Linked DNA regions of Homo sapiens: region 1 is linked to region 2. The links come from fine-mapping of genetic effects on gene expression. A gene starts in region 2. The other region holds a variant in brackets. All regions are shown on one strand. Distances are from middle to middle. Region 1 overlaps TRIM54 (tripartite motif containing 54). Region 2 holds the start of KHK (ketohexokinase).

Region 1 (4,385 bases), 210 kb after region 2:
TTTTAGCAACAACTGTAATGCGATATGAAAACAGCTGTGATTTCCGTTGGTGACAAAGTCACGGGCTGCTAAAACTGCTGTGGTTTTGTGCTGCTTCCCCTATATTGTGCTCCATTAAATGCTTCTGTTAAAAACCAGAGATGTTACCTATAAGGGGCAACAATTTGACCCATATAGCCAGTATAGAAGACTTTCTCAAAGTAGCCACTCAACATTTGCAAAAGGTTTGGAACACAAGTCAGACAAATTTTGGTAGAGAAAGTCAGGAAATGGTTAGCAAATTTCATTCTTATTTCACCTTCCTGATTTTTGCCATAGCTGTGTACTACCTGTACTATAATTTAATAGTTCTATTTTAAAACACTCACTTTTAGGCTAGGTGCACTGGCTCACACCTATAATCCCAGAACTTTGGGAGGCCAAGGTAGGCAGATCACTTGAGTTCAGGAGTTTGAGAGCAGCCTGGCCAACATGGTGAAACCCTGTCTCTACTAAAATATAAAGAAATTAGCTGGGCATGGTGGTGAACGCCTATAGTCCCAGCTACTCAGGAGGCTGAGGCTGGAGAATCACTTGAGCCCGGGAAGCAGAGGTTGCAGTGAGCCGAGATCGTGCCACTGCATTCTAGCCTGGGCTACAGGAGTGAAACCCTGTCGCAAAACAAAAACAAACAAACAAAAAATGACTTTTAAACCTTAAATATTTACTTTATCCTTATTCTATACAATGTAATCCATGAAAAATTGTCAGTTTTTTGTGGACTGTTTTTTTCCTAATATGCATTAGAATTAACACATAAAAAATCTTGAACATCCATCCCCATACCACCTCCAATCTTCATGCTTGTCATCAGTATTATACCATATTTTGGGAAACACAATGAGGGCGTCTAAGCAATATGAGCCAGAGGCCCTGGAAAGTCTGAAGGATAAATTTTACTATTTTATTACAAGTCAAATGTAGTCTTAATGCCAAAAAGCACATGTATGTAAATATTGGCCAGAAAGACTAGCAAAGGAAGTGGGGTTAGGATTTGGCTGGGGGCTAGCATTGCTGAAGCAATCACAGAAGGGAAGGGCTGCCCTGGAGATTAAGATGAAAGCCAGCCAGGCCCGACGGAGATATGGCAGGAGAAATTGGACTTGTGAATCAGGAGGGGACTCTGGGACTGGGGGATGAAAGCTACACGCAAAATACGGGACTGTGGTGTCAGCAGCAGGGAGCAGCACCAGCCCTGAGCAAGACGGTGGGAAAGCAGAGGTGCAGCCTCTCCCCACCGCCCTGCACCCTGAGCTCACACACTCCCGATTTCTCTCTCCCAAGACAGGAACTTTTCAAAGGACTTGGGTTGGACTGCCTGAGTACTGATGCCTCTTAGCCTTCTGGGCTCCAGAATAAATGCAATGACTAACCAATGCGATGAGCTGCTAAAGAAATTGCTTTGGCAGGTGGGAGGGTGTTGAAGAGGTGGTGTTAGTGTGCCTCCCTCAGGTCAAGTCCTGAAGTCAGTTCTGGCTGTGGGGAGTTTGAAGGAAGACATTGGCCAAGATAGCCCAAGTCCTGATTACTTTTTTCTTTCTAAAAATTGTAAGCTTGGCATGGGGTCTCACCCCTGAAATTCCAGCACTTTGGGAGGCTGAGGTAGGAGGATCGCTTGAGGCCAGGAGTTTGACATCAGCCTGGGCAACTAGCAAGACCCTATCTCTGCAGAAACTTTTTTTAAAAATTAGCTGGGCATGGTGGCACACCTGCAGTCCCAGCCACTTGGGAGGCTGAGGTGAGAGGATCCCTC[G/A]ATCCCAGGAAGTTGAGACGACAGAGAGAGAGATCTTGTCTCAAAAAATTTTTTTTAATTTTTGTAAAATGCACATAACATGAAATGTACCACCTTAACCTTTTAAATGTACAGTTCAATGGCATTACATACATTTACATTGTTGTGAAACTGTCACCACTATCCATCCCCAGAACTTTATCACCACCCCAAACTGAAACCCCACACCCCTTAAACAATACCTCCCTACTCCCCCTCCTTCCAGCAACTGGCAACCACCATCCATCCTATGCCAGGTACCTCATTTAAGAGGAATCATACAATATTTGTCCTTTTGTGTCTGGCTTATTTTGCTTAGCATAATGTCTTCAAGGTTTATCCATGTTACAGACTGCAGACCTGGTTACTTTTAGCTGATAATTTCTATTGCAATCTATGTGACTTTTATCAGCATCATCCATTCTCCTGTCAAATGTGGATTTTTTTTCTGTGTTGATATTTACTTGATTTCTTTCCTTAATTCTGCCAGCTCTCTTTTCTTCTCCAGTTTTGATCACTTATATCTCTTTGTTTTTGTTATTTCTTTTAAAATGGTATATCGAAATGGTATTGATTCTTGGAGTATCTGTCCCTTGTTTGTCAAGCTTTCTTTTTTCTTTTCTTTTTGTATTATCTGGTTTGCATCTTTTGTTGGATTCTGTCTGCTTATCACTCCCCTTTTATCAGGGTACTTTTATCTGGAGCTGAAGGTGAATTCCTGACTCAACCCACTGTGTTTATCTTGGCTTTCTTTCACTGTCCTCTTAAATATAAGCTGCCTGGTTGGATGTTGTCATTGGTTTTGCAATCTCTCTTTAGTTCTGTGCCTTCTTTGGTGAATAGAGGGGTATGACCTGAATTAATAGGTAGTTGAGTGTCTCAATTTGGTTGTGTTGTCTTGGAGTATTTTTCACGCAGAATCCGGTGATTTATCTACCATAGAGGCCCACACAGGTCCATGGGAGGAGGTCTCCCCTGAGATTTGAGCTATTTCCTCTCCATTTCACAGACAAACAGGTCATTCTGGTTGAAAGCAGGGCCCTTATAGAGCTCCATGGCACACAGGGTTTTAATTTGATGAGTCATCTTTTGTTGATCTTTGCTTAAATAGCTTTAGTCCACAGTTGCATAGTTGATTTTCAGGCTGTAGTTTCTTTCCTCTGTGAAGGTTTGAGGTTTGTTCCTTCATTACCCTTTTACTTTTTTTACTTAAAAAACAAAAACAAAAAACGGCCAGGTGAGGTGGCTCACACCTGTAATCCCAGCACTTTGGGAGGCCGAGGTGGGTGGATCACCTGAGGTCAGGAGTTCAAGACCAGCCTGGCCAACATGGGGAAACCCCATCTCTACTAAAAATGCAAAAAATTAGCCGGGCATGGTGGCACGTGCCTGTACTCCCAGCTACTCAGGAGGCTGAGGCAGGAGAATCGCTTGAACCCGGGAGGTGGAGGTGGCAGTGAGCCAAGATCCTGCCACTGCACTCCAGCCCGACGACAGAGTGAGACTCTGTCTCAAAAACAACAACAACAATAATAACAACAACAACAACAGTAAAAGAAACTGCCTCTGCCTGAGACTCAGAGAAATGAATATTAGCTCTAAGGGTTTTTTTGTTTTGTTTTTTGTTTGTTTTGTTTTTGAGACAGGTCTCCCTCTGTCACCCATGCTGTAGTGCAGTGGCATGATCACAGCTCACTGCAGCCTTGACTTCCTGGGCTCAAGTGATCCTCCCACCTCAGCCTCCCAAATACCTGGGACTAAAGGCATGAGCCATCTTGCTTTTTCTTCTTTTTGTAGAGACGTGGTTTCACTGTACTGCCCAGGCTGGTCTTGAACTCCTGCACTCAAGCCATCCTGCTGCCTTGACCTCCCAAAGTGTTGGGATTACAGTCATGAGCCACCGTGCACAGCCTGGCCTAAGTTTTATTGTGTCTGACAATGGAACACAATGATTATTAGGACAGGCTCTGGAGTCAGAGTGCCTAAGTTCCAGTACTGGCTTTGCCACCTATTAGCTCATGACCGTGTACAATTTATTTAATTTCACTGAGACACAATTTCCTCATCCTTGAAATGGGGCTAAGACTATTACCTACTTCAGGGCCAGGCATGGTGGCTCACGCCTGTAATCCCAGCACTTTGGGAGGCTGAGGTGGGCGGATCATGAGGTCAGGAGATTGAGACCATCTGGCCAACATGGTGAAACCCTGTCTCTACTAAAATACAAAAAAATTAGCCGGACATAGTGGCAGGCGCCTGTAGTCCCAGCTGCTTGGGAGGCTGAGGCAGGGGAATCGCTTGAACCCAGGAGATGGAGGTTGCAGTGAGCTGAGATTGCACCACTGCACTCCGGCCTGGGCGACAGAGCAAGACTCCATCTCAAAAAAAAAAAAAAAAAAAAAGAGTATTACCTACTTCAGGGTTGATATGAGGATTAAGTGAATTAATACAAATGAAAGACTTAGAGCAAATCCTGGCTCAGTAGATGTTAGCCATTATTATTCTATTTCTTGTAGACTAAGTTAGGAGTGATTGTTCACCTCCTCGACCATCTTTTTTTGTTTGTTTGTTTTTT
Region 2 (4,385 bases):
TTCCTGTTTTTCTTGATACCCCAATTCCTGCTTTGAAGTCCACGTAGCACCGAGCACAACAGGAGAGCCTCAGCAGATGTTTGCTGAGTGACTTAGTGAGAGCTGCTTTATTTCTCACTGCTCCCTTTCCTCTTCTCACAGGTCCTCAAGGTGAACAGGGTGAGTGCCTTTCATTTGATTCTGGAGGGAGAAGTGACTAGGGGTTGGAGGATAGAGGTCCTCGGGCAGCCCTGGGCTGGGGATCCAGCAGGGGAAGGGGGCTGGCACTCTGCCCTGAGCATCCCCTTTAACATCCACCCTTCCCACTCAGGAGTGGAGGGGGCACCAGCAGCCCCTGTGCCCCAAGTGGCATTTTCAGCTGCTCTGAGTTTGCCCCGGTCTGAACCAGGCACGGTCCCCTTCGACAGAGTCCTGCTCAATGATGGAGGCTATTATGATCCAGAGACAGGTAGTCCTGGGAGGGGCTGGGTTGAACGGTTGGAGAAATGGGTGAGGTGTGCAGTGATATCTTCCCATTCTTGCCTTTTCCGACAGTGTGAATCTTCATTCTCTGATTTGGGGAGACCCCGGCTCTTTCTTCATTTATTCATTCTCAGGCAGTGGGGAGAAGAAGTAGTCATTCATTCATTCAGCAGATCTTTACTGGGGCCTGCTCCTGCCCAGGCACTGTTTTAAGTGCTGGGAATGCATAGTGAACAAAGCCCCCAGTTCCCTGCCGCTCACATTCCAGTGAGGTGAAAAGACCCAGAGGGTCCCTCCTCAGTCCAGGAGTTCTGGTGCGCTCCCCGGAGCTTCCCTGGCCCCCCTGACTGCTATCCTTGTCCCCAGGCGTGTTCACAGCGCCACTGGCTGGACGCTACTTGCTGAGCGCGGTGCTGACTGGGCACCGGCACGAGAAAGTGGAGGCCGTGCTGTCCCGCTCCAACCAGGGCGTGGCCCGCGTAGACTCCGGTGGCTACGAGCCTGAGGGCCTGGAGAATAAGCCGGTGGCCGAGAGCCAGCCCAGCCCGGGCACCCTGGGCGTCTTCAGCCTCATCCTGCCGCTGCAGGCCGGGGACACGGTCTGCGTCGACCTGGTCATGGGGCAGCTGGCGCACTCGGAGGAGCCGCTCACCATCTTCAGCGGGGCCCTGCTCTATGGGGACCCAGAGCTTGAACACGCGTAGACTGGGGTCCCGCCCGACGTGTCTACGTCGGCTGAAGAGACAGCGGGGGCGGCGGGCTCCTGGGGTCTCGCCTGAGACGGGGCACCTAGCCCTGGGCGAGCGCCGCACCCGGGCCCGCAGCGGCACCGCGCCCAGAGCGGCCTCTCCCCACGCCCGGGGCGCGCCGGCTCAGGGAGGCTCGGGGCCGCCCATGCAGACTTTTGGCCTGGCGCGATCCCCCAAGAACCCCTCCAGGGCCGGCCTGCGGAGGAGCCGATCCTCGCACCCTCCGCTCCCTCCACTGGCCCTCCAGGTCGATTCCCTGGGCTCCAGGCTCCCCCGCGCGGGCGCCGCCCACCGCCATACTAAACGATCGAGGAATAAAGACACTTGGTTTTTCTAAAAAAAACTAAACGAACCGTTCTGCTACGGTACGGGGTCGGGGGCTGCCGGGCGTGCACAGGGCACGGGGCGGGAGAGACGACGGCCTCCGGAGAGGACCCCGGGTTCCGCACTGCGTTCGCCGCCTCCGCCCGGCTCGGGGCGGCTCGGGGTTGGCTCAGGCAGCAAGCGGCGCCCGCCCGGCTCCTGCGACGTCTCCCCCGTGTCACGCCCGTTTCGCCGGCGTCCGCCAGGGGGCGCTCTGCGTTCCCGCCACGTGAGGCTGCGGCCCACCCGGCGGGTCCTGCTCCTCCGCGGCGGAGGCGTGGCCTCGGCTGGGACTAACCGGGGCGGGGCGGGGCGGGGCGGGGCGGGGCCGCCGCGACCGCGGGCTTCAGGCAGGGCTGCAGATGCGAGGCCCAGCTGTACCTCGCGTGTCCCGGGTCGGGAGTCGGAGACGCAGGTGCAGGAGAGTGCGGGGCAAGTAGCGCATTTTCTCTTTGCATTCTCGAGATCGCTTAGCCGCGCTTTAAAAAGGTTTGCATCAGCTGTGAGTCCATCTGACAAGCGAGGAAACTAAGGCTGAGAAGTGGGAGGCGTTGCCATCTGCAGGCCCAGGCAACCTGCTACGGGAAGACCGGGGACCAAGACCTCTGGGTTGGCTTTCCTAGACCCGCTCGGGTCTTCGGGTGTCGCGAGGAAGGGCCCTGCTCCTTTCGTTCCCTGCACCCCTGGCCGCTGCAGGTGGCTCCCTGGAGGAGGAGCTCCCACGCGGAGGAGGAGCCAGGGCAGCTGGGAGCGGGGACACCATCCTCCTGGATAAGAGGCAGAGGCCGGGAGGAACCCCGTCAGCCGGGCGGGCAGGAAGCTCTGGGAGTAGCCTCATGGAAGAGAAGCAGATCCTGTGCGTGGGGCTAGTGGTGCTGGACGTCATCAGCCTGGTGGACAAGTACCCTAAGGAGGACTCGGAGATAAGGTAGGGGCGCCCAGGTCCCCTAGGGGACCCCAGGGGCTGCTGCAGTCCAGCATTTGTGCCAGCGACCGAGGCTGCAGAGACCCCGCAGTGAGGCCCTGAGAACCCGGCTTCAAGGCCGGACCCGCGCCCTCTACCCGGGAATCCTGGGGGGGCTCCCAGCATGACAGAAGAGAGGAAGGAATTGAGGCCTTTAATAAGAAGACCCAGGATTTAATAGCATCGTGTTAGCCAATTTCCATTTCAACTCAGGCATCAGGTGTCAGGTGTCAGGCATCAGGATCCCCATTTTACTGATAAGTATAGATTCAGAGACCAAGGGGCTTATCCAGGGGCACACAGCTACCTGCTTCTGCTGTTTCTTTTTAAACCCCAAGCCTATGCACTTGCCTCTCATCAACATTTACTTCTAACTTATTTATCCACATATCTCGCACCTATTTCTGAGAAAGATTTGAGGTAGCTTACAGTAAAAAGTATGTACAGTTAAACTGTTGGAGAACATTTAAGACCATGGTATTTGAGCTTCAACTATAGCTCAGGGCTTGCTGGCACTGGAGGCAAACATGAGATGCCATGGGTTATGTATGGATAGAGCTGGTTCATGAGCCCTGGCAAGCTTTTTCCTGGTGCTAAATTCCAAGAGGAGTTTACCAGAAGTCCTTTTCACAGAGGTCAATGAACACCGTTTAGTAGTGGGAAATATCTTTCTCAGTTGTCTGCTAGAAACTGAAGAGTCAGTTGTTGGTTCTTTTTTTTTTTTTTTTTTTTTTTTTTTGAGACAGGGTCTCATTCTGTCGTCCAGGCTGGAGTGCAGTGGTGCAACCATGCTCACTGCAGCCTTGACCTCCAGACTCAAGTGATCCTCCCACCTCAGCCTCCTGAGTAGCTGGGACCACACATGCACGTCACCATCCCAGCTGTATTTTAAATTTTGTATAAGGGACGGGTTCTCACTATACTGATCAGAGTGGTCTTGAGCTCCTGGGCTCAAGCAGTCCTCCTGCTTTGGCCTCTCAAAGTACTGGGATTACAGGCATGAGCCACTGCACCCAGCCGATTTGTTGGTTCTTTTTCTTTTTGAGACAGAGTCTCGCTCTGTTGCCCAGGCTGGAATGCAGTGGCATGATCTTGGCTCACTGCAACCTCCGCCTCCTGGATTCAAGCGATTCTCCTGCCTCAACCTCCTGGGTAGCTGGGATTATAGGCATACGCCACCATGCCCCACTAATTTTTTTTTTCTTTTGTAGAGACAGGGCTTTTCTTTGTAAAGACATGTTGGCCATGCTGGTCTCAAACTTCTAATCTCAAGTGATCTGCCCGTCTCAGTCCCCCAAAGTGCTGGGATTACAGGCATGAGCCACCACACCCGGCTTATTGGTTCTTGTATTTCCTCTTGATAAGGGCCCCACCATTACACTGTAATGCTGTGAAGGCATTTCTGTGGGGCGGGACACTAGCTTTCTCTTGGTGCAGTCAGTGAGTGCTTAGAACACTGAGAATTGCTCCTGGGCTATATCAGTTGTCGCAGCTAAGAACTGGATAAGAGGCAGTTCAAGACTGAACTCCACAAAGACACGACAGTGCTGATGGCTGCCAGGCTAACTGAGGTGAGAGACCCCGACACTCCTCAGGCTTTGGGGCCACAAAGCACCATCACATATATTATTTTATACTCTCCTCCCAGCAGCCCATGGGAACTGTGTAAAGATCAGTGAAATCCTTTATACAGATAAGGAAGCTGAAGATTTGGAGATGTTTTTTAAGGCCACGGAGTTAAATGGTGGCACAGTGGCAGCTGCAGCTCGAGTCTCCTAGTGTGGAGTCCAGGGTCCCTGCCCTCTGTCATCTCCTGTATACCCTGTCCCTTTGCTGTTGACCATCTC

The links. PIP is the estimated chance that this variant, and not a neighbour inherited with it, causes the effect.
Region 1: its variant is the best candidate, but not a certain one, in a credible set for the expression of KHK in spleen (GTEx, PIP 0.83).

Annotation. Positions count from the first base shown.
Region 1 is chr2:27,290,699-27,295,083 of GRCh38, forward strand. The region is part of intron 1 of TRIM54 (tripartite motif containing 54); the gene reads left to right. Among named protein-coding and RNA genes, the nearest start is that of TRIM54, 10 kb to the left of the region's middle. The variant G/A (reference allele first, on the strand shown) is at 1,793.
Region 2 is chr2:27,084,850-27,089,234 of GRCh38, forward strand. KHK (ketohexokinase) reads left to right here and starts at 1,923. Exons shown (of 8, transcript NM_006488.3): 1 at 1,923-2,502. The coding sequence starts at 2,411. It overlaps EMILIN1 (elastin microfibril interfacer 1), which reads left to right. Exons shown (of 8, transcript NM_007046.4): 6 at 142-159; 7 at 311-448; 8 at 829-1,554. The coding sequence ends at 1,166. RefSeq lists enhancers at 907-1,126, 2,117-2,176 and silencers at 1,257-1,416, 1,467-1,926.